Regions from separate parts of the Homo sapiens genome. Here regions 2, 3 and 4 are each reported to be linked to region 1. Evidence: microRNA targets listed by miRTarBase, many of them from high-throughput screens and not tested one by one. Region 1 holds a microRNA gene; each other region holds the end of a gene's coding sequence.
Evidence for each region. Region 1 holds the annotated microRNA hsa-miR-6776-5p (UCUGGGUGCAGUGGGGGUU, at 3,435-3,453, opposite strand). A microRNA usually pairs through its seed, bases 2 to 8, with sites in the 3' UTR of a target mRNA and lowers its output. Matches are read on the target gene's strand: a 7mer-m8 pairs with bases 2 to 8, a 7mer-A1 pairs with bases 2 to 7 and ends in A, and an 8mer does both.

Region 1 (7,290 bases):
GCTCAGCGGTGGGGATGCTCTGCTTGCCCGCTCACGCCCATCCCCCTTGAAACAAGGTGTCTGGACGGACCACACCCATAAGCGGCTCTCCGCAAACCCAGGCAGACGCCCGTCTCCTCCGGGTCTCAGGGTGGCCACATCCTCCCCCACCAGGGCTCTGACAGCAGGCACAGAGCAGCAGCACGGGCAGGGTGGAGCGGGAGCAGCGTGTGGGGGCCCCCGCCACCCCCAGAGCTAGTCTCAGACCAGGAAGGGAGCTGGGCACCAGAGAAGCGACATCACGTCGGCACCTGTAACTCCCGGGATCCGTAATTGGGCCCCGCTTCCCCCAGCCTCGCCCCCGGCCCACTGTGCGTTCGGCAGCTCAGGTTAAAACTGAGGGGAGGGATACATTCAGACCGCAGGCCCCAAGGCTGCGCCCAGCTGGGTGCAGGGAGTAGGGAGCCGAGTCAGAGCCACCCACTGGGCTCTGAGGGCCCAGCAAGCCAACCCCGACCCCTCCGTTCGGGAGCAGCAGCCAGACCACGCCAGTCACAACGGCGGCTCCCGTCCCGCCCCAAACTAAAGTGCACCCCAGCCCTCCAGCCCCGCCACAGAGCTCCGGCTCCCCACCCCTCCCCACCGGGTTTTTCGGCCTAAACCCTGAACTTTCAGACAGGCTGGGCCCGGGGGTGGTGGCAGCCAAAGCAGCAGCCATCATGTCGACCATACAAATGACCTGAGAAATCCCGTCTGCGCGTCACCCACTCAGGAGTCACCCACTCAGGACTGGCTCGGGCTATGTACAGGGGAGAGGAACGGTCAACACTCACAGCCAGGGGCGCACTCGCACACGCCGGCCGGACGGCGGGGGCCGAAGCAACACCTGCCCCCCAGCCGGGAACTGATGGCCGCACACGCCATTCACGTGTCTCCAATGGGGCCTCTGCATCATCTATTCATTGAACCAGCGCAAAAACACCTTCTGCGGGGCAGGCAGGCCAGGCTCCCAGGAGGACACGGGGGTGGGGTGGGGTGAGACGTGGAGGAAGAGGGCCTTGCTTCCTCTTCCGCCCGCAGGCTCGCCCCCTTCTCCCGCAGTCGGGCTCCCTGGTGACGGGGCCGCTGGCTGGCTGTCCGTCTGGCTCCCTCTCTATCCCTGCACGCTCGGAGAAGGGTCCTTGGCAGCCGGGGGCTGGGAGCCCAGGTCTCCTGGGGCCCCCGCTGGCGCGGGCTCGGTAGCCATGGGCTCCTCGGCTCTATCCCTGTTTCTGCTGGCCTCCTGGAGCTGGTGCCGCCGCGCCACCTCGGCTTTCAGATTCTCCAGGTCTTTTTGGCTGAGGATAAGGGTGGGGATGGAGGTGGCTCTCAGAGGAGTCCTGGGGGCTCCACCCGCCTCCCGGCTTTCCTGTGGGATAAGCTCAGGCTCTGCGCTCTATTCAGTGGGGAATGTGTGTGAACAAGCGCTTCCCTCCTGAAGGCGGAAGGTCCCTGAACACGGAGAAGGTAAGGACCCCGCACCTGACCCGGCCTCGGGGCTCCCCTCGCTGCCCTCGGTGGCCTCCCTCCAGCGCAGGGGGAGGAAAGCGGAGTTGGGGGGCTGCTGCCACGCCTTGCTGACCAAATCCACTCCCCACAGGAGGCCACACTGCTTGTGGCCACCCCGGGGAGCCCGGGGCCTGCTCCTCAGCCCCCCCCCGCCGCAGGATGGGAAGCGTGGGGAGGGAATGAAGCCGCTTCTTAGGGACTGGTGGGAAAACGCCAAGATACTTTGTGTGAAGCAGAAACACCAAGGTCTTCACTCGCGGAATGCGAGGATGCTGGGGAAGATAAGCGGGGCGGGCCGGGCGCGATGGCTCACGCCTGGAATCCCAGCACTCTGAGAGGCCGAGGCGGGCGGATCGCAAGGTTAAGAGTTCGAGACCAGCCTGGTCAACGTGGTGAAACCCCATCTCTACTACAAACACAAAAATGAGCCGGGCGAGGTGGCGGACACCTGTAATCCCAGCTACTGGGGAGGCTGAGGCAGGAGAATCGCTGAACCCGGGAGGCGGAGGCTGCAGTGAGCCGGGATGGCGCCGCCGCACTCCAGCCCGGGTGACAGGGCGAGACTCCGACTCACAAAAAACCCCCAACCGGGAGACACTCGAGTGGGGCGGAGGCCTCACCTGAGAGGAATGAAGAGGATGCCGTTAATGACGTTCAGCTGCTCCAAGACGCTGGCCATGCTGGGGGCCGTGAACTGCGGGGCGGGGAAACCAGCGGTGAGCGGGGCTCCCGCGCTCGCCGGGCCGGAGGGGCCGCTCCGCCCCGGACTCACCTTGAGGGGCGGGATGTTGGCGCTGGAGCCGTTGCGGTAGATCTCGTTCATGGTGCGCTGCAGGGCCACGGCCTGCTGGGTCAGGCACTTGAGGTACTCGGAGCTTTCCTTGGTCTTCTCATGGTCCTCGCCCAGCTGCGGGGAGGCGGGAAGGGATCAGGCCCCCCCGTGCCCCCGCGGCCCCGCCCCCGCCCCGCCACGCCCCCGCCCCGCCCCCGCCCCCGCCACGCCCCCGCCGCGCACCTGCGTCTTGTAGATGGTGTAACCCTCCTTCTCGTGCTGCAGGGCCGACCGGAACTCAGCTTTGCTCTCGTAGACTCGGGCGACAAGGTGGTGGCTGCCGGGAGGCGCGGCGCGGGGCGAGGGAAGGGCATAAGTGGGCTGGGTGTGGGGGCCTGACTCGGGGGCCCGGGGTCTCCCGTAGATCCCTCCCTGGAAGCCACCGAGGGGAACAGCAAGTCCAGGGCTCAGGGAAGAGGGGGAGGTCGAGAGAAATTTTCTCGGGTGGAGGAAGACAGGAGCACTGGGTCTCTTCCCCGCCCCCGCCGGCTGCCCCGCAGGCCTCCGCCGGCCTTGGCGTTTGGACGGGCGGCCCCTCACCTGAGGGCCACCTTGAGGGCCTTGGGCCCGTGGTACTTGGTGCTGACGGCCAGCGCGTTCTCCAGGAAGCGCAGCGACAGGTCGTACTCCATCACCCCGTGCAGCACCAGCCCGATGTTGTTCTGGGGGCAGGCGGTGGGGGGCCCTGGTCAGCTCCCGGTCCCCTGGGATGGAGCTGGGTCCCTGCCGCCCCCCCGCCCCAGCACTCACGTCCAGCAGCGCCATCTCGGGGTGGTCTTCCCCGAACACCAGCAGCATGAGGTAGCGGGCGCGGTACAGCAGGCTCAGGGCGGTGGACAGCTGGCTGCTGGCGAAGCAGTACAGGGCCAGGTGCATCTGCGGGCGGGGCGGAGACAGGTCAGGGTGGCCGCGGACCCAGCCCCTCGCATCCCCCGGCGCGGGCGGCACTCGCGACTCACGTATTCCTGGATGGTGTTGGGGTGCTCGGTGCCCATCACCCGCTCGCTCATCAGCACCGCCTTCTGCTGGTTACTCAGGGCCTGGGGAGAGACAGTGGTGGTTGCCGCGGCGTGGGAACCCCCACTGCACCCAGAGCCCGCCTGGCCCCGGCCCAGCAGCCCACGGTGCCGCTCTGCAGGCTCCTGTCCCCTCCGGCTGCGCCCAGCACAGTGCAGCAGGGGGGAGGGGGATCAGCAGCAGCTGCTGCCACACCTTGAAGGGCAGGTCACGCTCCACAGAGAGCTCCACACACCCATGTCTTACACCCAACAAAATCTCCACAAACACCCAAATACAAACCTAAAACTACTAAAAATGTTACAAAAAAAAAAAAAAAGCCTGAGCAGGGGTGGGTCCCTTGAGGTCAGGAGTTTGAGACCATCCTGGCCAACATGATGAAACCCCATCTCTACTAAAAATACAAAAATTAGCTGGGTGTGCTGGCTCACGCCTGTAATCCCAGCTACTCGGGAGGCTGAGGTGGGAGAATCGCTTGAGCCCAGGAGGTTGAGGCTGCAGGGAGTCGATATCACGCCACTACACTCCAGCCTGGGTGACAAAGCAAGACCCTGTCTCAGAAACAAACAAACAAACAAACAACCCACCCATTTATAAACAGAAGAAAAAACAGTCCCTTTGCAGGGAGTAGGGATCCTAAGACATGCTAACCCTGAAACAGCCCTGGCCAGGCAGGGCACCCAGAACCCCACCACAGCCTCCACCAGCCCCGGCCAGGCAGGGCACCCAGAACCCCACAGCCTGCACTGGGCACAGAGGACGTGGGAGCTCGGTGGCATGCTTCCTGCCCACTCACGGAGTCTCAGGAGGCGTCCTTGCTGACGCCCTGTGGGGGGGTCCCCTGCCATCGCCTCCCAGAACTGACCTCACCGCAGCACAGGGTGCTCCTGAGCTCTCCCGCTCGGGACACAGTTACAGAGGGGTGGAGCCAGGGGTGGCCTGGGCAGAACCAGCGACTTCCTGGGGTCTCCCTGGACTCCACCCACTCCTCCGTCAGGGGCCCCCTCACTCCCCATCCCCCAACACGAGGCCAGGCCTTTGCTGCCACAGCCCAGAGGGTACCTCTGCGTAGTCGCCCATGATGTAGTGGAGGCGGGCGAGGAGGCGCAGGCAGGCGCAGGTCTCCACGTGCATGGCTCCGTAGACGTTGTTAAACAGGTTCAGGGCCTCATTGATGAGCTCACAGCCCTCCTTCAGGAAGCCTGCAGGGCACCCCCAGGGGTGGCAAGGTCAGGACGGGCCATGGGGAACCCCCACCTCCACCCAGCCCCACCTGGCCACACACCCTGCTGCACTTTGGCCTGCCCGCTCTGGAAGAAATGGAAGGCATCCGAGGCCTTGGGGTTGACGTGCTTGACCACGGGGAAGATGTTGAGCACGTCCTCCTCGGTGAACGCGGGCTTGTGGCGACTGTCGAAGCTGTACTCCTTCAGCAGGACCTGGGGGGCAGCCCCCCCACCACAGGAAGCCTCAGGCCCAGGTTCAGCGGGTTGGCACCTCCCAACCCACCAACGCTTGCGCACAGACGGCTACCGTGAAAAAGCCACTTCCCCTGTGGCCCTGGCCAGGAGTGGGAGCCTGCAGCAGGGACGCAGCGGGGACACAGCGGGGACACAGCGGGGATGCTGTGAGCCATGCCCACCTGGATCCCTGTTTTCAGCGAGATCTCCCGCAGGAGCGTTATCTTCTGCAGGCCGTAGGTCTCCACAGCCTGGTCCACGGTCTCACTGAGGAGGGAGCAGGGGGCCTGAGCAGCCCAAGCACCGCCGGGCCCCCCCAACACCGCCCCACCCAGCTCCCCAACGCTGTCCAGCCCGGGCCCCCAACACTGCCCCACCCGGCCCCCGGGAGCCTCCCGGCTGCCCTCACCCTCCAGCACCCAGTGATCTCCACAGCTGCTCCCTCTTCTCTCTGACTCCCTGGCCTATGACCACAGGCCTTAGACGCCATCTGGGAGCAGGTGGTGGCCGCCTCATCTGCCCAATCCCACCCACCCCACCGCCCCTGCCCCGCACGCACCACTCGAGGTCGAAGTCAAAGTAGTTCTTGGCCTCCTGGCAGATGTTCTTCCAGAGCTCCTGGGGGGTCATGACAGCCCAGGCTGTGTTATCTGCAGCCCCCGGGGGCCGGTTTTTCCTCCTCTTATTCCGCTTCTTGGAGACCAGCTCGTCGGCGGGCAGGTGGGCCACGGGGTTTGGGTAGGAGCTCAGGAAGCAGTTCAGGAAGTGGCTGATGGCGGCTGAGAGGCCGGAGAGCTCGACTCCCTGCGAGGCAGGTTGGATCCGAGTCATGAGGGCCCTCAGCCCCACCTCAGGCTCTTTCCCGACGCCCCACACCACCCTGGGAGGCCATGGCCAGCCGCAGAGCGGACGGGTGGCACCTGTAAGTACGTCTTGAAGATGTGCTTGGCCGAGCGGGTGATGAGTTCTCCAATGCCGATTTTCTGGAAGGATTCAGAAGGGAGGTCTTGGTCAGGCCCCCGGCCTCCATCCCAGTCCCACAGCTCCCGTTCCGCCCCACCCCGGGCAGCACTCACAAAGACGTGGTCCAGCTGGTGGCGGGCCGGGCTCCGCAGCACCAGCTCCAGCACCTTGCCCAGGTAGCGCATGTTGATGCCCCGCTGGCGCATCACCTCTGCCAGCGTTGCCCCGTCCACGGGCAGGACCGCGTGCTCCATGCAGTCCTTCACCTGCGGGCTGCAGCAGCTCAGGCCCCCACCCAGCTCCTCTGCCTCCACCCAACTGAGTCCTTCTGGGGGAGCACAGCTATCCTGGGAGGCCCTGGAGAAGGACCCCGAAGGCTCCAGCTCCCAGTCAGGATGTCAGAATGTGCCCAGCCTCTGGCAGGAGCGCAGGCCAAGAACCAAGAGCCCGGTGGTGGTACAGGCCCCCTCTAACCATGTGGGAGAAGCAGAGGTGCCCGCTTGGGGGCACTACTTGACCCCCAGCCCCGTGTCCTGAGGCTTGGAGGCCACGGTGTTGGGGGAGCACCCAGCATCCTGGAACCAGACACAGAGCCTGCGGGAGGAGGAGGAGGATGGGCAGCCCCCACTGAGCTCTGGCCCCGTCCCCCAGCCATGCCACCATCCAGGGCTCAGAAGACTGGATTACCAGCTGCCAGCCCACACGGTGGGCTCAGCAGGGCCTGTGCCCTTGACCTCTGGGGGTCAGGCTCCCCATCTGTCAAACGGGGATGCCCACTCAGGGAAAGCTGAAAAAGTCACTCCTGCGAGCCTGTGTTCATGGGCCTCCAAGTCGGAGACAGATGAGGGACCAGCACCCTCCACACAAGCCCCACCCAGCCCCGCAGCCCCTCCCTCACCAAGCCAGGGATCTGGCAGGAGAGCAGGAAGGCAGCCGCGTCCTTCAGCAGCTGCTTCTGGTCCCGAACTTCATCCTGGCAGGACTCAGGGAAACGAACCCCTGGAGGAGGGAGAGCAGAGAGGCTGAGCCAGGCAGTGGCAAGACAAATGCCGCCTGGCGCTGGCGGGGGAAGCGCTCAGATGGGGGACAAACCCACCAGCCCCAAGGGCCCAGGCCCCCCAGCGAAGCTCTGGCCCTGGAGGGCTCCTGCGCTGGCCGGCCCCCACCACCTGCCTGGTGAGAAGATGTCAGGATTGAAGCGAATGTCGAAGGCGGTGCTGCTGATGGAGCCGACCGCCTTGCACGCGTTGCGGATCACCTCCCGGCTCCGAGGGTCTGCTGTGGAGACATGGCTCCATGAGACACGGGTCCCCTCTGCCACCGGTGGAGCTGGGCTGCGCCAAGCCTCGCCCCCTAGCTCCTTGCAGAGATGTCTGCCAGCCTCTCCCAGGTGGGGGTCATAAGCCACCCTGGCAGGGCCAGCCCGGGCTCTCTCCCGGCCATCTGCAGCAGCCCCACCTGTGCCGTCGTCTGCGGCGATGGTCTCTGCCA
Region 2 (8,037 bases), not on the chromosome of region 1:
GCTAATCAAAAATCAGATTAAAGCAGACCCGAATTAGTCACTAAGGTTTTTCCGTGTCAACCTGTGTAGTTTGCATTGCATCTATTGTAGCCCCAGAATTACAGTTTAGAAAGTGAAAAGCATTGACTCAGTCAGAAGGAACAAGGACAAGCATTGTTAAGTATGCCGTAGCAGTTTTTCTCCAGTGAAACAGTGTATGCAGTTCAGTATCTTGGAAATATTTGGAATTTACTACTTATTTTCAATGGGTATATGCAACATGTGCATCAATGTGTATGTCTCTCTATAGTCAAGATTATCTTCACTTTCAAATGTTGTTGAATAGCATGGGAGAATAGCATATTCTTTTTGAGCAAATACATTCAATTCTGTTTTTACAAATACCATGTTTGTAAGTATCTTAAGAGCATGATTTTTTTGTTGTTGTGTGTGATCTCATTTATTTAAAGAAAAAAAACAAAATAGCCAAATCCGTGGAGACAGAAGTGAGGCTAGTGATTGGCAGTGGCTGGTCAGTGGGGAATGGGGGTTTAGGCACTGGGTCTTCATTTGGGGTGACACAAAAGTTATGGAGCTTGAGAGTGGTGCTGGTTGCACAACACTGGAGTATACTTAGTACCACTGATTTGTACATTTTAAATGAGTTAAAATGCTAATTTTGTTATGTGTATTTTACAGCAATAAAAAAAAGACTGTGGTTAGATATCTAAGTGTAGACTTTCACAGGCTTTCAGATTTCAGTCTGGAGATTAGGGGAGCAGTGAAGGCTGGAGGTATAAATTTTCAAGACATTGGTAAAAAGATGATATTTTAAATTATGGACAAAATCCTCACCACCATCCTGACTTTTAGCCATGTGACATCCCTCTGCTAAGGGGTGATATGCCAGTGTTTCTGGATGGAGTTTATATTTACTGCATCTTTTTTGCATACAAACACAAAAGGCATTTTTGTCTTAAAAGGGGGACAATTGGATTATACTTTATCAAACAAAGCCTCTAACTTCTATCGAAAGGGAGCTAGATTTTTGGTGAGATGTGGAAGTAAAATCTCCAGGCCACAAAAATACAAGATTGGGGCTTATCTCGCTTCATTAAAAATCTGACTTTATACTTCATACTTTCTTATCATTGCAGGGATTGACATTTTTAGATAGACTGATGATTCCTGGTTTTATTCATTACAAAAACATATATTAAGCAATTATATTGGTGTAATTATTAGATAACAAGGAAGTGACTGTGAACCAAACATGATCTGTTTCAAGAGATTTTTCATCATGTTGGTCAAAGAGACCTTACAAGATTGAAGAACCCCCGAATGACAGTTGATAGCTTCTTACTATGAAAAGTGTAAGACCCATAAGAAAATTTAAAAAAGGATTGAGGCTATTTTGTTTGCAGAAAAGGGGTAGATTTAGACAGACATGGGTTTGAACCCCAGTTTAGCCATTTACTAGCTGGGTGATCTTAGATAAGTTACTTTATTTCTCTGGGCGCAAATTACCGCCATCTGTTAAGCGAGGTAATAATAATACCTGGCCTTCATCCAGTTTTTGCAAGATTTAAGTGTCATATTCATCTGTGCCCAGCAGAAAGATAGAGTTCAAAAGGGAGCAGCAATTTTCATTTTGTTGAATCATCGACATAGCATGCTGTTTATCAGTATTGTTACTAGTAATATTGAAGTTTCTTCTCACATTAGATAGGAACCTCCTTACTTTACAAATGCTTTGACAGAGGTACAGGGCTGTCCTATACCCTACTCCCAGGTTTGTAGCTTGGTAGTCATAGAACTGATATTTAAAAGCCATTAAGACCTTGATCATCATTTCCAGTAGAATCCATGCAGTTCTGCTGTTTCAAAAAGCCCCGTGGCCCCTCTTCCCTTTGAAGCCGGGATGGGGCTGTTTTGAGTGAATTTGTTCTCTCTTTTCAGATGCCTACGCGAGAGGATCTGGGGCTTCCACTTCGAATGCATGTACGCTGTCAGCCATCAGTACAATAATGATTTCCCTCACAGCTAGGTCCAGTTTATGACAAAAGTTATCTGAAGGACTTGCTGTTTATAATATAAGCAACATTTAGCTAGTTGTTTTGAAGACACCCAGTACTAAGTAATATTGTTGTTCAAGTACATCTTATTACTGGAATAAAAATGTTTTTTGCTTCTTTAGGAATGGCATTATACAGTACTTCCTCAAAGCAAATCTAGCTTTGTCTGAAGTTTCTTTGGAAACTCTGCAATGCACTGAAGACATCTGTAATATGATGTTACCAAAGCAGTTTACATATGTCCTTATATGCATATTTTTTATTATATATTTAGTGTTTTATAGAATTTTTTAAAGTTAACATATAATGTAGATATTAATTTTTTCCTCGGCTGTAAAATGCTATGGGCAACACAATCATGCAATTATAATTTGAAAATATTTCCTTTAAAGACAGAGTTTGAAACTCATCTTGGTAAATAAATTGCAAATTACTCGTACAGTTTTACAAGGATCTCATGGCAGAACAGCGGAAGACTTGGTCCGTAACTCAAGGCTGTTGTATGCAAACTACTCTTCTAGTGGTTAATGCACTTGACATGTACAGTATGTTTCCCATGCCGTTGTGATTTTGACATGTACAGTATGTTTTCATGCCGTTGTGAATTTTGTTGTTCAACCCAACTTGAGATGGTTTCAGGAATGGCTGCAATCTCAAAAGCTCAATGTACTGCCCAAGAGGCACCTTGTGCAATATTCCCATCCCTGAATTTAGCATTGTACAGGAAGATTTTCTTTTCACTCAACTGAGTTAGCATTGTCTTTGTGGTAGCATTATCTTAGACATTAAATTTGAAGTAACATATATCCTGTAGTAACATAGACCCAAAGTTACTATAGTCAACCAAGTCTTTCAAAGGATAAAAGATCATTTTATTATCTTTAACTGTATCTATTTTGAATGTAAATTTAAAAAAAGTAATTCTCTGTCAATGGATTCGTAATTTCTTTACAAAATTTCTTATATATAATATGTGTATCTCTGTAATAATAGAGCCCTTCTTTTGAATCAAAATTACATATGGACTTTGGAAGATTGCTCCTATTTCAACAAATAGTTGCTGCAAGAATTTTTAATATGACTCTATAAAAGCTCTTTAGTACAATTGTATGGTTTCTTGATGATTCTGTTTTGCAATAGGTAGCCTAGTTGCTTTATATGCTTTACCTTCTAGGTCTTAAAATCACACATTGGAAAATGACAATATCAACAAAACTGTATTCTTATGAAAAGAACTATTTGTTACAATGAGAAAGGTTTTGTGAGTAAACCCTACTGGACAGTGACATAAAAGGCAATGGAATTTTCTATAAACATTTTCTCATGTAAACATGCTGCCACCTTTTCTTCTTTCTCAGAGAACTCAAATTTGCTATAGTTTGTCATTTTTGCTTACAAATAATATAACTTTTCAACCTTCTAGTTATATTTATCCAATAAAGTCATAATCGGGATTCCATTTGTGTAAAAACTAGGGTGGTAACCGGAAAAAAATATTGTCAGTATTTCAAGCTGTGTTCCTTTCTTAGTTTGATATGGTTACTTCTATGTTGAAATAAAATTTAAAATCACATGCAAAAAAAAAATCAGCAAAATAATAAAATGAACGAAAAAAAATGACACCCAGGGAGTTCCCAACCCCAGTGTAAATGATATTTACCAGTGATCTAGCATATGTAATCTTTTTTAAAGGTATTGTTAATAAATATTCTGTCATTTGTAAAGATACTTGTCTTTCGGGAGCATTTTTCCTGCCTGCCTGTCAGGGAATTTGTTAGCTTACCTTTGTGCTAGTTATAATTTGGGATCATAGAGGGACTCAAAAGTCTCTACCCAAATCTAGATGACCCAGAGCTTTTCCTTTGGAATTGACAACCCTGAAGCACCATTTCAAATCCTCTTTGGAAGTAGAGAGGGTCCTAATCCACAAGTAAATGTCCTGAAGATGAGACTTGAATATTTTCTCTTGATTAGCTAAGTCTTTTGTATATTTACTGTAAGTATATCTGTTGTTTCCCTCACCCCCCATTGCTAAAAGGGTAAGTTCTAAGCTTGAGCATTTAAGGCTCTTTTTTTTTTGAGACGGAGTCTCACTCTTGTCACCCAGGCTGGAGTGCAATGTTGCGATCTCGGCTCACTGCAACCTCCGCCTCCCAGGTTCAAGCAATTCTCCTGCCTCAGCCTCCCGAGGCGCCCACCACTACACCGGACTAATTTTTGGATTTTTAGTAGAGACGAGATTTCACCATGTTAGTCAGGCTGGTCTCAAACACCTGACCTCAGGTGATCTGCCCGCCTCGGCCTCCCACAGTGCTGGGATTACAGGCTTGAGCCACCGCACCCGGCCCTTAAGGCCCTTTTTAATCCAAAACGATTTAACTGTGTATCCAGCCACAGTAAGCCCTCCCTGACCCCTGAACACTGCTTGCTTTTGGTCTCACCTCTGTGCCTTTGGTCTTATGGCTGCCCCTTCCTGAAATGCCTTCTCCACCCTTCTCTCCCATTCAGATCCCTGCTGTCCTAGGGTAGCTCCAGCCCCAGTTTGTCTGCAAAGACTTCCCATGCTTCAGTCCTTTATGACATTCTCGCTTGGAAGTAGTTGCATCCCCTATCAATGCTGCTCATTTAGTAATTAATCAGATACTACTTTTGGAAATCTCTTGTACTGTTATCTTGCATTTTAATTTAACTCCTGTATTGTTACTTACTTTTTCTTGTATGTATGGCTTGTCTTCCCAACTAGATTGTAAGCTCCTTGAGGGCAGGGACTTTGGTCTTATCTTCCATGTACTCTCCATAGTGCCTAGCACAGTGCCTTGCAATAAATACTCACTGATTAATTGAATGAAGGGGTCTTTGAAGTAGCATTTTGCATCAGTTGCCTGCCTGTGTGCCACAGCAAACCAACCAGGGAAGACTGTGTCATTACTTTCGTTATGTGCTGAAAAGCGTTAAAAGGCCTGGCTTCTAACTTTGTACCTGGAAGAAGTCTTTGACCAATTGGCTTCATCATCGGGTAAATGAGGTCCTGGATTAGTTGAGTCTAACTGAATTGAAGATGTTTTAGAAAGTGCCCCATGAGCACCTCCACCCAAACTTGTCTCATTTGTTGGCTTTCATGGTTGCCTCAGGTAGGGTCCACTGGCTGTAAGCAAAGAAACGACCCTGGGTAACTTGAGCAAACAAAAAGTAAGGAATTAGAATGACACAGGTTACATCATATGAGCCAAGGAAACACTGAAGGACCAACTCTTGAGGAGAATAAGAACCAGGCCACTCTGTGGGTCCAGACAATGGGAACTTTGGAAAGTCTTTTTGGGGTGCTATTGTGGGGATGAATCAGCTTTGTTTCCAATTTTGACGCCATTATGCTCAATATTCAGATTCCTGGGAAAGTGATCAGTTCCATTTGAGTTCCACAGCCAGAGTACCTTGTACTCACAGGGGAGGGATAGTTAAAGGAAAACTAAGATGCTGTTTTCCAAAGGTAAGAGAAGAAATGCTGGGTTGGTATAAGTAACAGATTTTCTAGGCTTAGCCAGCCAAGGGGACTTTCTTAGGCCCTTAGCCCAAGTAATACACTCGAGTGGAATGACTATATTGCTGCTTGAGATTTTTTTCTGAAGGAGGACCACTAGGAAAATTTGCTTTGCTTGTTTAACCTTTCAAAGTGCTTACTCTTGCCCTCCTTTTTGTGTGTGTAGTCCACTTGTGATTTAACTGTATGAAAGGAAATTCTATTGTGCCAGATATTTGGATTCTCTCAGTGTACCTACTTTCTATGGAGCCCACACATGCTACATACAAAGCAGCACCTTTCCATGGGCACAGAAGACATGGATGATAAGCTTCATTTCTCAGGTAAGCTCTGAATTCTTCCAGCCTGTGAGGTAGAAGGTGCATAGACTTTGATATTAAGAAAGAATGATTGTGTTATTCCCACCATCAAAATTGTGGTTGTTTATATCCAGGAGGCAATGTTAAATCCTGATTAACCTTTACCCAGTCTCTTCCACCACCTTGCCTCACTACAAATATGCGCAAAGAATGTTGAGTTATAAAAAGTATACAAATAGCACATAATTAGCAACAAAAATGTCATGCAGTTTTTAATCTAATGTAATCAACCAACAGGTGATTTTTGTTCACTACATTGGATTATCGATGCTACTGTTCTCCTCCGTTAACACTTATAATCAAGAAGTGACTGTTATTTTCCTGTTGTTACAATTTACAAAATGTTCTGGCTAAAAACGTTATGTGGCCAACCATAGTGCTTTGAAAGGCAAGCCTTTAAAATCAAGGACTTATATTCAATCTGTGGACATACCCCAGATTTTTCCATTACAAAATGCCAGACACTGAGGCCTTACAAAGGCAGCCTAATACAAAGACTAAGGACGTGGATCCTGGAGTTTGACTGCCTGGGGTGCATTGTAATGATTGGCTACTTATTAGGGAGGATAAAGTTTGTAAAGCTCTCCAAACAGTGATGATTTTACCGTCTGTTATTGTTCTTTTTCTCCAGGGACTTTACTAGACCCACAGATGTAGGATGTGGATGCTTCTTATCACCAAAATGAGTGGAACTCAGCTGACACATCCATTATCACCTTTTATTTAAACATGATCACTTCTTAATATAAATTTTAATGTTCGATAATTTTAATCATACAATCAACTAATTCAAACTTAGGCAGTAGGGTTCCCATTCAGATGCCAGGTTTTGCACAAAGCCTCCCTCAGCTTCCCCATCTGAAATTGACCTTGCATTTCTCTGACCTCCAGGGGATGGGGTCTGTACCCACTCATGTCAGTCATCCCTTCGTACCTTATATTTAAATCATTTTTGTTGGTGTCTTCCGCCTTATAGTAGACACACGGCACCTCAGCGTTGGCATCTGGGTGTGGTTCCTCATTGTGCTCCCAGGCACAAGGCCTGTGTCACCTCCATCTCAGACCTAGAGGGAGGAGAATATCTGGCCCCGTTTCCTGTGATTTCCTCAGGCCCCCTGCCAGAGTGTGATTAGTAAATGCAAGTCAGGCTGCCCATTCTGCAAAGAGGCCCCGTTTCCCCTTGTGCTAAATGGGCCATGCGGATTAAATGTTCCAGCTCTGCAACTCACCTGCAAACTACAATACTCAACAGAGATCACAGTTTAAACAAAATTGGCCTCTATCCTTTATCACAAGCAGTTATGGGCCATGGTAGATTAGCAGAGCTCTAGTGATATAGATCACATAGAGAGAAAGCTTTTTTTAAAAAAGGTCAACCATATGATCGATCTGAAAGTCTGGAAATTGGAAGGCTGAGCTACTTAAATATAGATGCAATTACATGTGATATCCCCATTCTCTGTAAACTGGGTTTTTGCCACATATCCTTATTGTTAGGAATAACACGAACTATACCAGGAAATATATATGTCCTAGGACTTTAACAAATAGTAATATCTTTAATTTGTTTTTCTAGTTTTCAAAGTGCTTTTCACACTAATAAGGGGAGGACATAGGTTTTTATTCCTTTTTTATTTATGAAATGGAAGCAAAGAGGTTATATAAGAAGCCCAAAGTAACATAGACAATTAGAAAGTCAGGGCTGGGCATGGTGGCTCACACCTGTAATCCCAGCACTTTGGGAGACTGAGGTGGGGGGATCACAAGGTCAAGAGTTCGAGACCAGCCTGGCCAACATGGTGAAACCCCATTCCTACTAAAAATACAAAAATTAGCTGGGCATGGTGGCACGTGCTTGTAGTCCCAGTTACCCAGGAGGCTGAGGCAGGAGGATTGCTTGAACCTGGGAGGCAGAGGTTGTAGTGAGCTGAGATTGCCCTACTGCACTCTAGCCTGGGCAAGAGAGTGAGACTCTGTCTCAAACAAAAGAAAAAAAAAAAAAGAAGGACTAGAATTTAGAACATAGACTCATTAGTGCATTTCATACACCTAGAAATAAGTACTTAGAGAAAGGACAGGATGGAGT
Region 3 (8,037 bases), not on the chromosome of region 1:
CAGGCTGGAGTGAGTGCAGTGGCGTGATCTCAGCTCACTGCAACCTCCGCCTCTTGGGTTCAAGCAATTCTTCTGCCTCAGCCTCCAGAGTAGCTGGGATTACAGGCATGAGCCACCGCGCCTGGCAAGTTTGTTTTTTTTTTTTTTACCTAACATTGAACAGTGGGTGGCTGCCTACCCTGCGCAAAGTTGGAAGGTCGGGGGACTGTGTGGCAAAGTGACTGCTTCTGAAAATCCAAGCTGCTGGGCCCACCCCCACCCCTTCTCCTGCCCCCCAGGACTTGGTTTCCACAGCGGGGAAGGAGGCGTGTGCTTCTGTCTTGCGTTGATGTGCGGCATCCCCAGTGGCTTCCAAAGGCCCTTTATTCCCAGGCTGGGTGGGTTGCTCCTCTGAGTGCTTGAGAAACCAGCCCTGTGTGGGTCATTGCATGTGGTGGGGGTGACTCCGGGTGCCAGGAAACACCTGTCTATCACCAGGCATGGGTCCAGAAAGTGCTCTGGGCAGGGCTTAGTGGGGCAGGTCCTGGTGGTAGGAGGGGCTGCCTAGCCAGGGACCCTGGGGCCCCCCACTGTACTCCAGGCCTACCTCTGTGATGCTGCTGCAGGGGCCTGGGCTGGCATTATGACTCTGGGAGCTTCACCCACGTGAAGACTCACAGCCTCCAGCTGGGCAACATAGTGAAACCCCCATGTCTACCAAAAGTAAAAATATTAAGCGTGGTGGTATGTGCCTGTAGTCCTAGCTACTCCAGAGGCTGAGCTGGGAGGATTGCTTGAGCCCAGAAGGTTGAGGCTGTCCGAAAAAAAAGACTCACAGCCCCTCTCTTTTCCCTGTCCCCCAGAACGCTGCCAAGAAGAGAGACCAGGAGCAAGTGGAGCTGGAAGGCGAGAGCTCCGCACCTCCCCGCAAGGTGGCGCGGACCGACAGCCCAGACATGCACGAGGACACTTAAGACTCTCAACTCCACAGGCGCCTCCTGCCAGGTCTGCTCCTCGGTCGCCCACCCGCCTGCCCGCCATGTGTAAGCACCCCGCCCGCCCGCCTCCCTGCCGGCCCATCCACACCCTGCGTCCACACCACTTCCAACCTCATAGGAGCCGATGTATTTATTTTCCTTGAGTTTTTATTTATGCTGTAACCTGTATCAAGCGTTGGTTAAAGGGGACATCAGACCCAGTAGTGTGATGTTGGTAGATGCTTTTTAAAAAAAACAACATTGTCCCCCCGACCCCCGCCTTCCATCGGGCCAGTTCCCCGATTCCTGCCCCCAGTTCTCCAGAGAACCAGAGTGTGTCTGTGAGAGTCTCTAGCGGGGGCTTTACTGTGGCCGGGCGACAGGGGCGGGCCCGGGGTGGCCTGACCTACCAGGACAGCCGAGTGGCCTTCTCCCCCCCAACACCGGTCCAGGCCATTGAGACTCGGTCTTGTCCCACGCTTCGCCCGGAACTTTCCCATGCCCAGGCCTCACTCAGCGTGCACGCACGTTGGGGAGAAGTCGGCCCTTGGGATCTTTCTCTTGAGTCATTTTATTTTTATCATGGACTAGTGCGTGCTCCGTGTCCACCCCAATAAAAGGGTCTTTCCTACTTGACCTCGCGTCTTTGCTCCACACACCTTGGCTGCAGAGGACGGAGCCCCTGGGAGTCATCCCTGTTGTCACCAAGAGGAGTGAGAAGGGCCCCCCACGCCAGGGGCCCCAGGACCGGCTGGATTCTCTCGTGGGCTTGCTGAGGCCACCATGTTCAAGGCCAAGACCTGCCTGGACCATCCCCTCTGCCTCTCCTGTCAAGGTGACCCCAAGGACAGGTCATTCCTGAGAGACGGTCCATGGTGCCAAGGATGGAGCGGGGTCAGCCCCCTGCCTGGGATACCGCCAAGCAGGGCAGCGCACCTGTCAGACACCGCAGAGATGGCCGGCCTCATCCGGGGGCCTGGGGTCTCTGGCCTCTGCTGCTCCCCTGAGGCATGGTGACAGTACAGACGGCATCTGGCCGGTCTTGCTGTCCTAGGTGGTGGCCTCACCCTTGCTGGGTCATAGAGGAGCTGTACAGAAGGTTGGCACCTGGCAGTTGGCATGTGCCATGGCCGCTCATGGGGACCCCTCTTCCGCCAGCTGGGCTGGGTTTGGGGCTGAGCTTGGGTATGTAGGGGTGTTCGGGCTCTGGGCAGAAGGTTTGTGGCCCTGACCACTGAGCCTGGGGCTGGGGGAACACCGCTTCTCCCCTTATTGCCCCCACTGGTGGTGGTGGGGATCTCAGTTTTCTTTTGTTTTGTTTTGTTTGTTTGTTTGAGTTGGGGTCTTGTACTCTTTCCCAGGCTGGAGTGCAGTGGCGTAATCACAGCTCACTGCAGCCTCGACCTCAAGCCTTCCTCCCACCTCAGCCTTCCAAGCCGCTGGGACCACAGGCACCCACCACCATGCCTGGCTAATTTTTTTTTTTTTTTGAGATGGAGTCTCGCTGTGTCTCCCAGGCTGGAGTGCAGTGGCAAGATCTCAGCTCACTACAACCTCTGCCTCCCAGGTTCAAGTGATTCTCCTACCTCAGCCTCCTGAGTAGCTGGGATTACACGCGTGCGCCCCTACACCCAGCTAATTTTTCTATTTTTAGTGGAGACGGCGTTTTGTCATGTTGGCCAGGCTGGTCTCGAACTCCTGACCTCAGGTGCTTCGCCTGCCTCGGCCTCCCAAAGTGCTGTGACCGCACCTGGCTGCCTGGCTAATATTTTAAAAATTTTTTGTAGAGACAGGGTTTCACCATGTTGCCCAGGCTGGTCTCAAACTCCTGGGCTCAAGTCATCCACCTTCCTCAGCCTCCCAAAGTGCTGGGGTTACAGACGTGAACCACCGTGCCTGGCAGAGGTCTCTGTTTTGAGAGCTGAGTCTGAGGGCGTTGGGATGGTGTAGGGTTGGGCCACAGAGCTAGCAGACACTCCGGGCTATGGAGGGTCCGCCTGCCCCAGATTCCACTGTGGAGGGCCCTGCCTGTGTCAGACCCTCGGGCCTAGGCGGCCCATCTCTCCCAAGGACGGAGAGTGCCAGGGTGGGCTCCCGTCCTACACAAGGAGTGGCTGACCAGGCCCAGGCACAGCACAGCCACCCTGCTGTACCTCCCAGCTCCCGGCAGTGTCTACACCACAGTGATGGTGCTACAGGGGCCATGTGGTCACAGGACAGGTGGTCAGGAAATGCACACTTGACTGCGGTCGATGGTGCCGGGTCCGGCTGAATGCCCTGGAGGCTCCCAGGCCAGCTGGGGAGTCCCAGTCCCCAGGGTTGGTGTGACCTGGGCAGGCCTGCGGTGTCCATCTGTGAATGACTGAGATGGTGGGACTTCAGCTTCCAAGGCCAGGGGCCAGAGTGGGAGCAGGGGGCACTCCCGCCTTTCCCCTCGGCCTGTCTAGACCTCTCTGGCTCCCAGTTTCTGCTTTGAGTGGCTGGGGGCTGTCTCCTGCCTGTGCTGTCTGCCCGTCGCTCTGCAGGGCTGCTGGGCGGGCACCTCCTTCCCCTCCCCTACCTCAGCTCCCTCCTTTGGGGTCTGAGGGCTGTGCCCCAGCTTGCCTCCCTGTGGCCTCCCCCTAGAACCCCTGGGTCTGTCGGGACATGCCCCACCTGGCACACACACCCTGTGTAGCTCCCACTGCCTGTGGGAGGACGCTGGGCCCCTGAGCCGGCCTCTGTCTACCCCTCCTGCCTTTGGGGTCCCCTTTACCCCACTGTTCCCCCAAACTGCCTTCCACCTTCTCCGCCTTTGCACAGGCTGTTCTCCTGCCTCCAGTGAACTCTGACTTCTCCACAGCCTCCCAAAGGGCCCCTTGCTCACACTGGCCCAGCCCTGCAGCATGGCCATGTTGGTCTCTGAGCCTTAAGCCTTTGGATGTGGACACATTTGTCCTCTTCCTGAAAAATGTGAGGGTCTGAGAGGCCACGTTCCTGTTCCTGAGTCATACGACAGAGTCCCAGTGACTTGGGTCTGATGTCTGTCCCACAGTGGGACATCCCTGCTGCATCCCAATGCCACCCCGTGTCCTGGGGACACCCAAATGTGCCATTCTCTCAGTATCACAAGTCGGGGACTGCAGGAGGCTCAGGTGCCAGGTGCCTTCTGATGTTCATGCCACAAGCTCTTCCCACTGTCTCTGGCTCCCCAGACGATGTTCCAGGAGGCGGGTGTGCCAGAAGGGGCCACGTCTTGCAAACCACCGCGCTGTCCTCTTTGAGAAGGAGTCTTACTCAGGACTGGGGCCTGTGCACACATTGTCGCCTCTTTTCAGCACTTAGAGATTCCTTCCTTTGTCTAGTGGCTGAAGCCAGGGCTGAAGTTGGCCTCCAAATCTGGGCCGTCTCAGAGGCGGCGCAGCCTGGAGTTTTCCATCTGTGGCCAAGACCCAGTTTTTGGGAGGAGGCCCTCATGGGTCAAGCCAGCCTGTACCAGGATGGGGGGAGGGGGTTCCCAACCTAGGCCCCAGCCACCCAGACTCCCCCACCCCCACTCCCTTTTCCACTGCTCTGACCTCGGGCACTGTTGAAATATAGTTTTTATTGCATTTCTGCCGTTTTACAAAAATATGACAAAATAAATTAAAAACAAATAAATAATCGCCTGTTCTGTGTGTGTGTGTGTGTGTGTGTGTGTGTGTGTTTTCTGTTGGATTTGTGGGTTTCCTTTCGTTTGGAAAGGAAAACGGCAGATGGGGGGCACCGACCAATACTGGGGGCCCTCGGGGGCTGAAGCGCATTTTGCATTTTGGAGACCGGCCGCCCCTGTGAATGACTGATATTGCATATGAGAAGAGAAGGCAGGGCGGGTAGAGCTAATGCCAGCCGCTGGGCCAGCACACGGCCTGGGGGCTGGGGCTGGGGCTAGGGGAGGGCGCTGGGGTCTCGAGGGGATCCGAGGTGGGCGGTAGCGGTGGGGGCGGGAGGCTGTAAAAGCTGGCGTCTCCCGGCAGGGGCTGGGGGGCGGGTGGGGGCCCGGCCATGGCACAGGGTGGGCACTCGGCAGCGGCCAGGGCCTGGCGGGGGGCGGCACCCTCGCCCCCGCAGCCCCAGGGCCCGTCCCACTGCCAGCAGCCTGCGGGCGGTGTCGGGGGCCGGGGCAGCGGCATTGGCGGCGGCGGCGCGGGGCTCCGGCTGCGGCGGGTGCGGAGGGCAGGGGCGCCCACGGGGGCCAGCGCTGTCCCTGCGGAGGCGAGAGGGGCCGTTCCGGGGGGATGCCGCCCCCGCCGGACCCCGCCGGGCTGGCAACCCTGCCCGCGCTCCCTCCCGGGCATCCAGGCACATAAAGGCCTTATTGCTTCTGATCAGAGACTGAGGTGGGGCGGCCCCCTGGGCGGCTTCCGGTGCATACCCTGCCTCTGGGCACGGCCCTGCCGGTCACAGGGGGAGGACAGTTTGAGGAAGTCCCTCTGGCTTCTGACCTATGGCCCTTGTGCTGCAGCTGCCACCTGTTGGGCTCCCTGGGAATGGGGTTGCTGGAGCCCAGGCTGGGATTGGGGCAGGGGAGGTGGTGGGGGTGGGAGGGTAGGGGTGAGGCCTGCACCTCTGCTCAGCACATGTGGGAGCTCCCTGGGTGGGCAGCCCCAGCCCCACCTCGAGGAAGGCCTTCCTGAACAGCTGGGCTGCAGGGTGTGGATTTGCATAGAGGCCTGGGGGGTCAAGTCCCCCCCAAGAGTGAGCTGGAGCAGGAGAAGGGTGGGCTGGTTGGGAAACAGGCCTCCCTCATCTCTCCTGGCACCGGAGCATGGTGGGGGTCCCTGGGTGCAGTCCTGGGACAAGGGGCTTTGGCATCCCTCCCTGGGGAGGGTCAGGCACGGGGCTCCAGGCTAACAAAGGCCCTGGAGATACTAAGCAGGCTTTAACTGAGAGGCTCCACGTACCACTGACCCAGGTCCCCACCAGGACCTAAGACCGGGCTTCCCCTGTCCCCTTCAGCCCCTCTCCCCAGGCCTGGCCACCCTACCCTATCCCCAAAGCCGGCCCGGCGTCCCCACCCCCGAGTTAAAGCTTGTGACCTGAGCCTTCCTCTTCGGGCCGGGGGGCTTCCAGCTCCTCAGCCAGGGCCTCGTCCACCGGCCCACTCCTCTGAACCCGGCTGCTGCCACTGCTGGGGGTCCCATCTGGCCGGGCCTGCCCGCCCGCCCCGTTGGACCCAGGCTCAGCCCGGGTGCCACCAAAGGGGAAGAGCTTGCCAGCATGGAAGGCTTTGGGCGGTGAGTGGCTGCGCTCAGAGTCCCGCCGGGTCTCGGGTGACTTGAGGAACTTGAAGCTGAGGAAGGCAGGCAGGCGGGTGTCGCTGCCTGTGGGTGACTGGGCAGGGGGAGGCCGGGTGGTGGCTCCGGCCCCTGCAGCAGCCAGTGAGGATGTGGCCCCTGACGAGAGGAATTTGCCCTGCAGTGGGATGATCTGCTTCAACTTCATGACGTTGTTGGGTGCCAGCAGGGACCCTGGGCGCTTGGGCCGTTCAGGCCCGTGGCCACCCGCAGTGCTGCCCTTGGCCTTGGCAGAGGCCTTCTCGGAGGAGGTGGCAGGGTCCAGCCCAGAGCCCTCGGCCCTCGCCTCCTCTCGGCCACCAGAATCATGCTCCCGCCGGGCATGGTGCTCTGCATGGCGCTGTCGCTCCTCCTCCTCCCGCCGCCTGCGCTGCTGCTGCTGGTAGCGATGCTGGGCCTGGCGCTCGTGTCTCTGCAGGTAGAGCCAAGCCGTTACAGGACTAAGAAGAAAGGGTGTTAGCGGGTGCCAGCTGAGGCTGGTGCATGCCAGGGCTCTCTGCAAAAGTGGGGGAGACTTAAATGCTTATTAGGCTCCAACTGTATCCCTGCACCCACAATGGGGGCTCCCTGCAGAAGTGGGAGAGAGCCAATCACTTATTGGGTGCAAACGGCATTCCCAGATACATGATCAGCCTCTCTGTGGAAATGAGGGAGGCTTAAATGCTTATTGGGGCTGGGCGCAGTGGCTTGCGCCTGTAATCCCAGCACTTTGGGAGGCTGAGATGGGAGGATCACTTGAGGCCAGGAGTTCGAGACCAGCCTGGACAAAATGGCAAAACCCTGTCTCTACCAAAAATATAAAAATTAGCTGAGCATGGTGGCACACGCCTGTAATTCCAGCTACTCGGAAGGCTGAGGCAGGAGAATCGCTTGAACCCGGGAGACGGAGGTTGCAGTGAGCTGAGATTGTGCCATTGCACTCCAGCCTGGGGACAAAGCGAGACTGTCTCAAAAAAGAGAAAAAGAAAAAAAGCGTATTGGGCGCCAGCTTCATCTCTGGGCCCACACTGAGGTTCTCTGGGGAACTGGAGAGAGATTCCGAGGCTTATTGGGTGCAACTGAATGAATCCCTGGACCCACGCCGGTACTTTCTGGGAATTGAAAAGAAAACAAACATTCACTGGCCATCAACTCTGTCCCCGGCTGTGTGCCAGACAGCGTCTTAGGAATTGGTAAAGTGGAAACCAATCCTGAGCCTCAACCGATCCCCTGCTTCCCAGAGAACAGGCAAGAGACAGAACCGTGGCTGCAGGCTGGGTACGGTGGCTCACGCCTATAATCCCAGCACTTTGGGAGGTGGGCAGATTGCTTGAGGTTAGGAGTTGGAGACCAGCCTGGCCAACATGGTGAAACCCCATCTCTATTAAAAATAGAAAAATTAGCCAGGCGTGGTGGGACATGCCTGTAATCCCAGCTATTTGGGAGGCATGAGAATTGCTTAAACCTGGGAGGTGGAGATTGCGGTGAGCCGAGATTGTGCCACTGCACTCCATGCACTCCAGCCTGGATGACAGAGTGAGAGAGATTCTGTCTCAAAGAAAAAACAAAAACAAAAACAAAAAGGACTATGGCTGCAGCAGACTATACCCAGGTAGCCACGCGAGGCTCTGTTCAATAAAATAAAAATTCAGTTTCTCGGTCGCAGCAGCTGCACTTCAACGTGCTCACTTATCACCTGTAGCTAAAGGCTGCAGGGACAGTGCAGACAAAGGACATTGTCATCCTCGAGGAATGTTCCCTGTGCAGGCACTGGGGAGCTCCTTGGC
Region 4 (8,037 bases), not on the chromosome of region 1:
TAGCCAGGTGTGGTGGGAGCCTGTAATCCCAGCTACTCAGGAGGCTGAGGCAGGAGAATCGCTTGAACCTGGGAGGTGGAGGTTGCAGTGAGCCAAGATTGTGCCACTGCACTTCAGCCTGAGTGACAAGAGCAAAACTCCATCTCAAAAAACAAAGGCTGGGCACGGTGGCTCATGCCTATAATCCCAGCCTTTTGGGAGGCTGAGGCAGGCAGATTACCTGAGGTCAGGAGTTCGAGACTGGCCTGGCTAACATGGTGAAACCCCGTCTCTACTAAAAATACAAAAATTAGCTGGGTGTGGTGGCGGGCACCTGTAATCCCAGCTACTCGGAGGCTGAGGCGGAAGAATGGCTTGAACCCAGGAAGTGGAGGTTGCAGTGAGCTGAGATCGCATCATTGCACTCCAGCCTGGGCGACTAGAACAAAACTCCATTTCAAAAAAATAAATAAATATGGCCAGGCGTGGTGGCTCACGCCTGTAATCCTAGCACTTTGGGAGGCCGAGGAGGGTGGATCACCTGAGGTCAGGAGCTCGAAACCAGCCTGGCCAACATGGGGAAACACCATCTCTACTAAAAATACAAAAATGAGCCAGGTATGATGGTGCATGCCTGTAATCCCAGCTACTTGGGAGGCTGAGGCAGGATAATTGCTTGAACCCGGGAGGCGGAGGTTGCAGTGAGCCAAGATCACACCACTGCACTCCAGCTTGGGTGACAGAGCAAGACTCTGTCTCAAAAATAAATAAAATAGGCCAGGCGCAGTGGCTCACACCTGTAATCCCAACACTTTGGGAGGCTGAGGTGGGCAGATCACGAGATCAGGAGATCAAGAACATCCTGGTTAACATGGTGAAACCCTGTCTCTACTAAAAATATAAAATTAGCTGGGTGTGGTGGCGGGCACCTGTAGTTACTCAGGAGGCCGAGGCAGGAGAATGGTGTGAACCCAGGAGGTAGAGCTTGCAGTGAGCTGAGATCGCACCACTGCACTCCAGCCTGGGTGAAAGAGTGAGACTCCATCAATCAATCAATCAATATAAAAATAACTCTCAGCTTCCTCAGGGGCTTTGAGGAGGTAACACAAAACTACGCTGAAGGAAGACAGCATTGTAATGAAGCAGAGCAGACTGTTTCCCTTTGGGCCACACCCATAGGGTACCTACTCTCTTTGCAGAGAAAGGGTGGCATACCCCAGCTCAGCCCTAGGTCTGCTGAGTTTCCACAACAGGGAGCAGGCAGACAAAACCAGCTGTCTGAACCTGCCTTCTCGCATGCTAAGCTGCCACTGGTGCTGAGAGAACTCATTGAGGCCAACCTGCTGCCTTCTGGGCCAGTGCTGCCTCTTAACTGGCCATCCTAGGCCTCAGTTTCCCCACCAGTAAAACAGAAGTATGGATTGTGAACATTTTGGGGGTTTTGTCTAGCTTTCAAGACTCGGATTGGTTTTCACAGTGATGGAGCGAGTCTTTCTCTATCCTGCGTTTAGTCAAGAATCCCCCAGCTGCTACCGGTGGCTGCCCACCTGCCTCAGAGGCCCAGGCCAGCAGCCAATTCGCTCTCTCTTCTGCTTTGTATCTGCCAGGTGAGGGTTCAGAGTATGGTGCCAGTGGAGAAGATGCGCTCAGCAGGATCCAGAGGCTGATGGCGGAGGGCGGCATGACAGCCGTGGTGCAGCGGGAGCAGAGCACCACCATGGCCTCCATGGGCGGCTTCGGCAACAACATCATCGTCAGCCACCGCATTCACCGCAGCTCTCAGACGGGCACTGAACCTGGTGCCGCCCACACCTCCTCACCCCAGCCCTCCACCTCTCGGGGACTGCTCCCAGAGGCCGGGCAACTGGCAGAGCGAGGCCTAAGCCCCCGGACAGCTTCCTGGGACCAGCCTGGTACCCCTGGGCGGGAGCCAACCCAGCCAACCCTGCCCTCTTCCTCCCCTGTCCCCATTCCTGTTTCCCTTCCCAGCGCTGAGGGACCAACCCTCCACTGCGAGTTGACCAATAACAACCACCTTCTGGATGGTGGCAGCAGCAGGGGGGACGCTGCAGGCCCTAGGGGAGAACCACGGAACAGGTAGAGACAAACGTTGCACTGGTGCCTCCCCTCGAACCGCCAAGCAGAAACCGGACCTCACAGCTGACTGGGAACTGGACATGTGGAAGAGCTGCTGGCTGCATCAGGGAACAGGAGGAGGAAGAGGGTCAGGGTGGAGAGGAAGATCAGTCAGTGGGCACAAGACAGTCAAATGGGCAAGGCCTGCCTCGGGGAACTAGAACCTTCCAGGATCTGGAGCCCGGGAGAGCCACACTGTGGGCTTAATGTGAATAGAGGAACAAGTGGGTATCTCTGCCAGGCACCCCACTTTCTCCTAGTAACATGGGCTCAGGGGACTCAGCCCTGGACAGAGAGCCTCCAGAGAGTGAACAGTCTTCCAGATCTGGGCCAATCATCCTGGACAGAGGCCCGCGAGGCAGCTTTGCCCTGTCCACCTGTTGGGTGGGCAGAGCCACCAGGAACCCAGACACCACCTCCAACTCTGAGCCTTCCAGAGCTTCAGCCTCTCTTCGTCGTCTTACCCCACTGAAACCAACAGGGATCGGGCCAGGCTCCCAGATTCTTGAGGACAGGGACTTCGGCATTTACTAATGGGGGACTACTGTGGGGTAAGGGGGCGCCTGCTTGCCTGATACAGGATGGGGTCAAGGGACAGTGGGCAGGTCCTCACTCAGGAGTGGGGGGTGTAGGCTGGCCAGCCCCCAGGGCTTGTCCACCAGTCTTCTCCCCGCAAGGCCCTCAGAGCAGCGCCTGTGGGTGTCAGTATTACCTGAGCCTAGGCCAAAGCTAGCCCAAGGCTGGGGAAGGGGAGGAGACTCCAGGTCAGAATGTGAGGTCTCAGTCTGTGATTTAAGGTGTTGCATGTGGACTCTTAACTGTACGTGTAGTTTCTAGTGGAGAAATCAAGGCTCTGATCATTTTGTTTTTAGTATGAAAATGTGATTTCCTTTCTGTTTGTAACTCATCATAGAAACATTGTGGTGGGAGGAGAGGGGATAGTCTACAGCTAATGAGGGAAACACCAAAGATCACATCATTAAAATGATGACATGCCCCTCGCCAGGCTCCTCTCTCTTATTTCCAAGGAGGATGGGGGAGGGGTGGGGATTGGGAAGTGAGGGGCATTGAACTGGGCCAGGCCCAGGTTCTCCCGGCACTGTTTCTGGTGCTCTCCTAGTGGGGTGCAGTGGACCCCTCTGACCCCTTCGCCAGAGCTGGTCAGGTGAGGGCTGCCACCTCTGCTTCATACCACTTCTCTGTACGCCACCACTTCCTGCTTCCCCAGGGCCTGCTACAGACTGGGGCCACCTTCCAGTGCCAGGGTGAGTATGTAGGAAGGAACGACAGAAGGCTATTCATCCTAATAGCTTCCCACCCAGGACTACAGGCCTGAAGTGATGTAACTGGCCAGAAACCTGGATCCCCTCCAGTCCTGGGAAAGCACGCACAGCAGGTGTCCAGCCTGCTAGGCAGGTGGAGGGGCTTGGTCCTATCTGCAGGCAAGGTGCCAGTTGCTAGCTGCTCAGGTCTCCCTTGACTGTGTCTTCCCTACAGTGGCCGAAAGGCCTGCTCTATTCGTGGGCTTTGGCTGCTTGAAAGCTTCCAGCTGGCCAGGCGTGGTGGCTCACGCCTGTAATCCCAGCACTTTGGGAGACCGAGACAGGCGGATCACTTGAGGTCAGGAGTTTGAGACCAGCCTGGCCAACATGGTGAAACCCTGTCTCTGCTAAAAATACAAAAAAATTAGCCAGGCGTGGTGGCTCGCACCTGTAATCCTAGCTACTGGGGAGGCTTGAACCCTGGAGGCAGAGGTTGCGGTGAGTCAAGATCACGCCACTGCACTCCAGCCTGGGCAACAGAGTGAGACTCCGTCTCAAGTGGGAAAAGGATATTTGCCCCAACTCTTCAAGAGCTCTAATGGAAAATCCAAGCAATTCCAGGGCTTTTTGCCAGCAGCACGTACTTTTGAGTGTGTGTGTGTGTGCCCAAATCTGTCCCTGATGCCATGGGGCACTCAGAATTCCAGGTTCTGCTCCAACAGAGACAAAACCAAAAGATAAGTTGGCAAGCAAGAAATAAAAAACCATGGCCAGAGTTAGGAAGACTCTTATTTTCTAGAAAATTCTGTATTAGTGGACTCTGGACTGAAAGACACATCACTTAGCTGTGTGACTTTGGGCAAGCCATTTGCCTTTTCTGGGCTTCACTTTCCCTTGTTAGGATGCAGGGCTTGTACTACACAACCTCAAAGTTACTTCTAGTTCTGTACTTTGGAATCACTGAAGCCCAGAGAGCACACAAGTGGCTAGGGCAGGCTTCCTTTCAGAGGTGGGATTTAGACACCTGTAGTCCCTAAGTACTTGGGAGGCTGAGGCAGGAGGATCACTTGAGCCCAGGAGTCCAAGTCCAGCCTGGGCAACAAAGTGAGACCGTATCTCTCTCTCTCTTTTTTTTTTTTTTTTTTTTTGAGACGGAGTTTCGTTCTTGTTGCCCAGACTGGAGTGCAATGGTGCCATCTCGGTTCACCGCAACCTCCATCTCCCAGGTTCAAGCGATTCTCCTGCCTCAGCCTCCCTAGTAGCTGGGATTACAGGCATGAGCCACCACGCCTGGCTAATTTTGTATTTTTAGTAGAGATGGGGTTTCTCCGTGTTGGTCAGGCTGGTTTCGATCTCCCGACCTCAGGTGATCTGCCTGCCTTGGCCTCCCAAAGTGCTGGGTTTACAGGCATGAGCCACCGTGCCCGGCTGATGCTATCTCTTTAAAAAAAAAAAAAAGTGGATTTGAGCTAAGCATTGAAGGATGGAAGGAGAAGGGAGCCCACTGCCCCACATCCTCTCCCCACCACCCGTTGGAGGAAGAATTCCTTGGTCTGATAGTGGGTCCTGCTAATTTGTTTAATGTAAACCACAGGCCAGGAGTCAATGTGCGTTCTCTCTGTCAATCCTCACAAAAACTCTCTGAGGTCATTACTGCTGTTACCCCCAGAGCACACAATTAACTGGCAGAGCCAGAGTTTGAACCAAGTAGTGTATGATTCCAGAGTGCACACTTCAGCCAGTCATTTCTACAGAAGGAAGACAAGGTGTAGGAGAAACAATGGAACCCTGACTTGTTCTGTTGCTTTGGGGAAAAGGGTATGGGGAGGTCCCTAGGGATGAAGTGGTCCAAATTTGTTTTTTGGGTTTTTTTGTTTGTTTTTTGTTGTTTTGTTTTGTTTTGTTTTTGAGATGGAGTCTCTGTCACCCAGGCTGGAGTGCAATGGCACAATCTCAGCTCACTGCAACCTCCACCTCCCAGGTTTAAGCAATTCTCCTGCCTCAGCCTCCTGAGTAACTGGGATTACAGGTGTGTGCCACCACACCCAGCTAATTTTGTTTGTATTTTTAGTAGGGATGGGGTGTCACCATGTTAACCAGGCTGGTCTCAAACTCCTGACCTCAAGTGATCTGCCTGTCTCGGCCTCCCAAAATGCTGGGTTTGTGGGCGTGAGCCACCATCCGGCCAAGGTGGTCCAAATTTGGACCTGCCAGGCCTTGTCTCTGCTGTCTCTGGATGGTGCCAGCCACCCTCCCCAACCTCCCCACCCCCCATTGGAGGCCCTTGTCAACACCTCTCTGTCCCCACACCAGCCCCTTTCCTTAGAAAGCCCTTGCCCAATGACAGAGCCTCTCTGGTAGTAAAACCTTTGCAGGCCCCTTACACGTCACAAGGTTGTGGGGTCACCAGGGCAAAGATAGGGGCAGTCCCTTTTGGAGATGAGGAAATAGGTTCAGAGAAATTCTGTTACTTGTCTGCTGACCTAGTGGCATCAAAAGCAGAGCAGAGAAACCACCAAGTCCCCTTGTTCCCAATTCAGCTCTCCAGGGTTCCACCGTGGGTTCTTGGGGTTGGGAGATTGAGAGAGGTCAAAAGCCCTTCATAACAGGGATTGTGGAGAAATTAAAGTGACTTTGCCTGCCAGCTTCTGGAAGAGCTGGGGTCAGTAGCTGGAGGCGTGTCTTGTGTATGCAGCCTCCCGCCCTTGGCCTTGCTTGTTTTCTCATCTGACTGTTTTAAGGATCTATCTGCCTTCCTCCTCCACAACCCCCACCTCCTCTTAGGAGTATCACACTCTTCTGTGCCCTGGGAAGGATATGGCAAAGTGGAAGAAGTGCAGGAGTGCCGTCTTAGGGTCTTATGAACCAACTTTCCTTATTTGTGAAGTGGGGCAAGAAGAGTAGTGCTTCTTTCACCCCCAGTTATGAGGTCTTGGGAGACCCGATCATTCATGTAACAACAGAAGATGGCTTCCTACTCTAGCCAACCAACCCCAGCCCTGAAGTTCCCAATTCCGACCAACCCCAGCCGTCGCGCTCGCGAGCTCTGGGGACCCGAACTCCACTTCCGGGTTCCGCGCGGAGAACCCCACACCAAGAGCCCCGCAGCGCTGGCTTCTACTCGAGTTCCCTCCCATTCTCTGCCAAGAGGCTCCTGCCTCTCCTCCACCGCCGCCCCCGCAATCGCCCTCACCACCTCCGGCCCTCGGGGGAGGGTCTTGAGTTGTTTCCCCGAGAGAAGAAATCAGACGTCTTAAGCTTAATCAAATGTTTGCGATCAGAATTTGGGGTTACAGGCCTCGGTCCTGGGCGCAGTGGGGAGCGTCCGACCCCGGCGGTCCCCCGGAAGGGCGCTCTCGGAGGGAGACAAGCGCTGGAGCGGAATCAGGCAGGCGAGGCTGCTGGGCCAGGGCGCGGGGAGCTCTCCGAGGTGCTGAAGCCGCCCCAAGGTCCGCCCAGCCTGGGCGAGGCCCGGAGTCCTGAGGCTACGGCCCGTGCGGTTCCCAGCGACCTCTGAGATTGGCTGCCCGCTCTCCGGGATCTTGTCCCGGGCTCCGGCCCCGGCGACCTTGGGCAACCGACTGTCCCTCACAGGCGGCGGTGAACTGGCGGTCCAGGCTGCGCCTGGACTGGCGGCGCGTCCCATCCCAGGGCTGGGAGAGCAGGGGCGCGCCCCTTCCCCGGCCCGGAACGCTGAGCAGGCAGCCGAGCGGGTGCGGGCGAGTGGTCCGCGGTGGGCTCTTCTCTCCCCGGCCGAACCTCTCCAGTCCACCCGCTCCTGCGCTTCCCCAGGCCCCGACGGCGCCCCTCCTCGCGGGCGGCCCGGCCGGCACGCAGCGGCGCGGCTGGAGCTCCCGGCCCTCGACCCCGACGGATCCCTGGCGGCGCAGCCCGCCCCACCCACCCGCAGCCTCCCGCTGGGGTCAGACTCCCGCGCCTCGCGGCCAAACCGCCAGCGGGGCCACGCAGGGCGCTGAGGTCCCGGAGAGGCGCGAAAATAGCTCAGGGTCCCGGGAGTATGGTCAGGGCGGAGGCGGGAGCGCGGCCGGACCCAGCTGCCAGCTCCTTCCCCAGCCCGCGAGGGGGCGCCGCGTCCCCATGACAACGCGGACACCCCCACCCCCCGGAGGGCAGCGCCCCCTGCTCCCCTGCGTCGCTGGCCGTGGGCGGCGCCCTCTGTGCCCAAGCAGGGAGCTGCCGGCCAGCCCCCGAGAGGGGCGCGGACCGCCGGGGTCTCCGACGCCTCGGGTGTTGACCCCCGCGCGTCGCCGCCGGGTGACCGGCCCGGGGCGGGCGGCGCGGCCCCGCCACGATTGGCTGCTTCCTCGTGACATCACGCGGCTCGGGGAAAAGTGCGAGCGTGAGCGCGAGTCGGAGCCACAGCGCCGGGAGCTGCGGGCGGAGCAGGGGCCGCCCCTCGACACCCCGTCCCCGCCCCCGGCCCTCGGCCCGGCCGCCCGCCCCGCCGGCCCGCGGGGCCGCGCGTCCGTCCCGCCGTCTGTCTGGCGCGAGGGGAGCTGGGCAGAGGCGGCGGGTAAGTGGCTCCGCGGCGGCGCGGGGGCGGGGGGCTCGCCGGGAAGAGCAGGAAGCAGGTCCCCGGGACGCTCTGAGGCTCCCCAGAGGTGGGTTCGACTGGGACAGGGCGCCAGACCCCCTCCGG

Region 2: the mRNA of CNTN4 is a reported target of hsa-miR-6776-5p. Seed matches in the 3' UTR shown: 7mer-m8 at 2,104-2,110 and 7mer-m8 at 3,675-3,681.
Region 3: miRTarBase lists DDA1 as a target of hsa-miR-6776-5p. Seed matches in the 3' UTR shown: 7mer-m8 at 2,585-2,591 and 8mer at 4,470-4,477.
Region 4: miRTarBase lists AMBRA1 as a target of hsa-miR-6776-5p. Seed matches in the 3' UTR shown: 7mer-A1 at 2,519-2,525.

The regions. Positions count from the first base shown.
Region 1 is chr17:2,689,462-2,696,751 of GRCh38, forward strand. It overlaps MIR6776 (microRNA 6776), which reads right to left and starts at 3,458; the gene lies at 3,400-3,458. CLUH (CLUH binding protein of NUMT mRNA) reads right to left here. Exons shown (of 26, transcript NM_001366661.1): 11 at 7,258-7,290; 12 at 6,973-7,077; 13 at 6,698-6,798; 14 at 5,913-6,065; 15 at 5,757-5,819; 16 at 5,396-5,640; 17 at 5,019-5,103; 18 at 4,662-4,815; 19 at 4,439-4,578; 20 at 3,319-3,399; 21 at 3,110-3,235; 22 at 2,900-3,021; 23 at 2,543-2,636; 24 at 2,300-2,434; 2 more. The coding sequence ends at 1,133. RefSeq lists enhancers at 1,749-2,257, 2,258-2,765.
Region 2 is chr3:3,054,182-3,062,218 of GRCh38, forward strand. It overlaps CNTN4 (contactin 4), which reads left to right. Exons shown (of 25, transcript NM_175607.3): 25 at 1,939-3,778. The coding sequence ends at 2,039. It overlaps CNTN4-AS1 (CNTN4 antisense RNA 1), which reads right to left and starts at 6,964. Exons shown (of 4, transcript NR_046554.1): 1 at 6,886-6,964.
Region 3 is chr19:17,318,704-17,326,740 of GRCh38, forward strand. It overlaps DDA1 (DET1 and DDB1 associated 1), which reads left to right. Exons shown (of 5, transcript NM_024050.6): 5 at 843-4,595. The coding sequence ends at 953. It overlaps ANO8 (anoctamin 8), which reads right to left. Exons shown (of 18, transcript NM_020959.3): 17 at 6,014-6,683; 18 at 4,520-5,181. The coding sequence ends at 4,814. Among named protein-coding and RNA genes, the nearest start is that of ANO8, 12 kb to the right of the region's middle. RefSeq lists enhancers at 2,653-3,269, 4,811-4,860, 5,648-6,148, 7,593-8,037.
Region 4 is chr11:46,391,493-46,399,529 of GRCh38, reverse strand. AMBRA1 (autophagy and beclin 1 regulator 1) reads left to right here. Exons shown (of 18, transcript NM_001387011.1): 18 at 1,587-3,116. The coding sequence ends at 2,080. CHRM4 (cholinergic receptor muscarinic 4) reads left to right here and starts at 7,754. Exons shown (of 2, transcript NM_000741.5): 1 at 7,754-7,999. RefSeq lists an enhancer at 5,966-6,740 and silencers at 7,394-7,443, 7,624-7,713.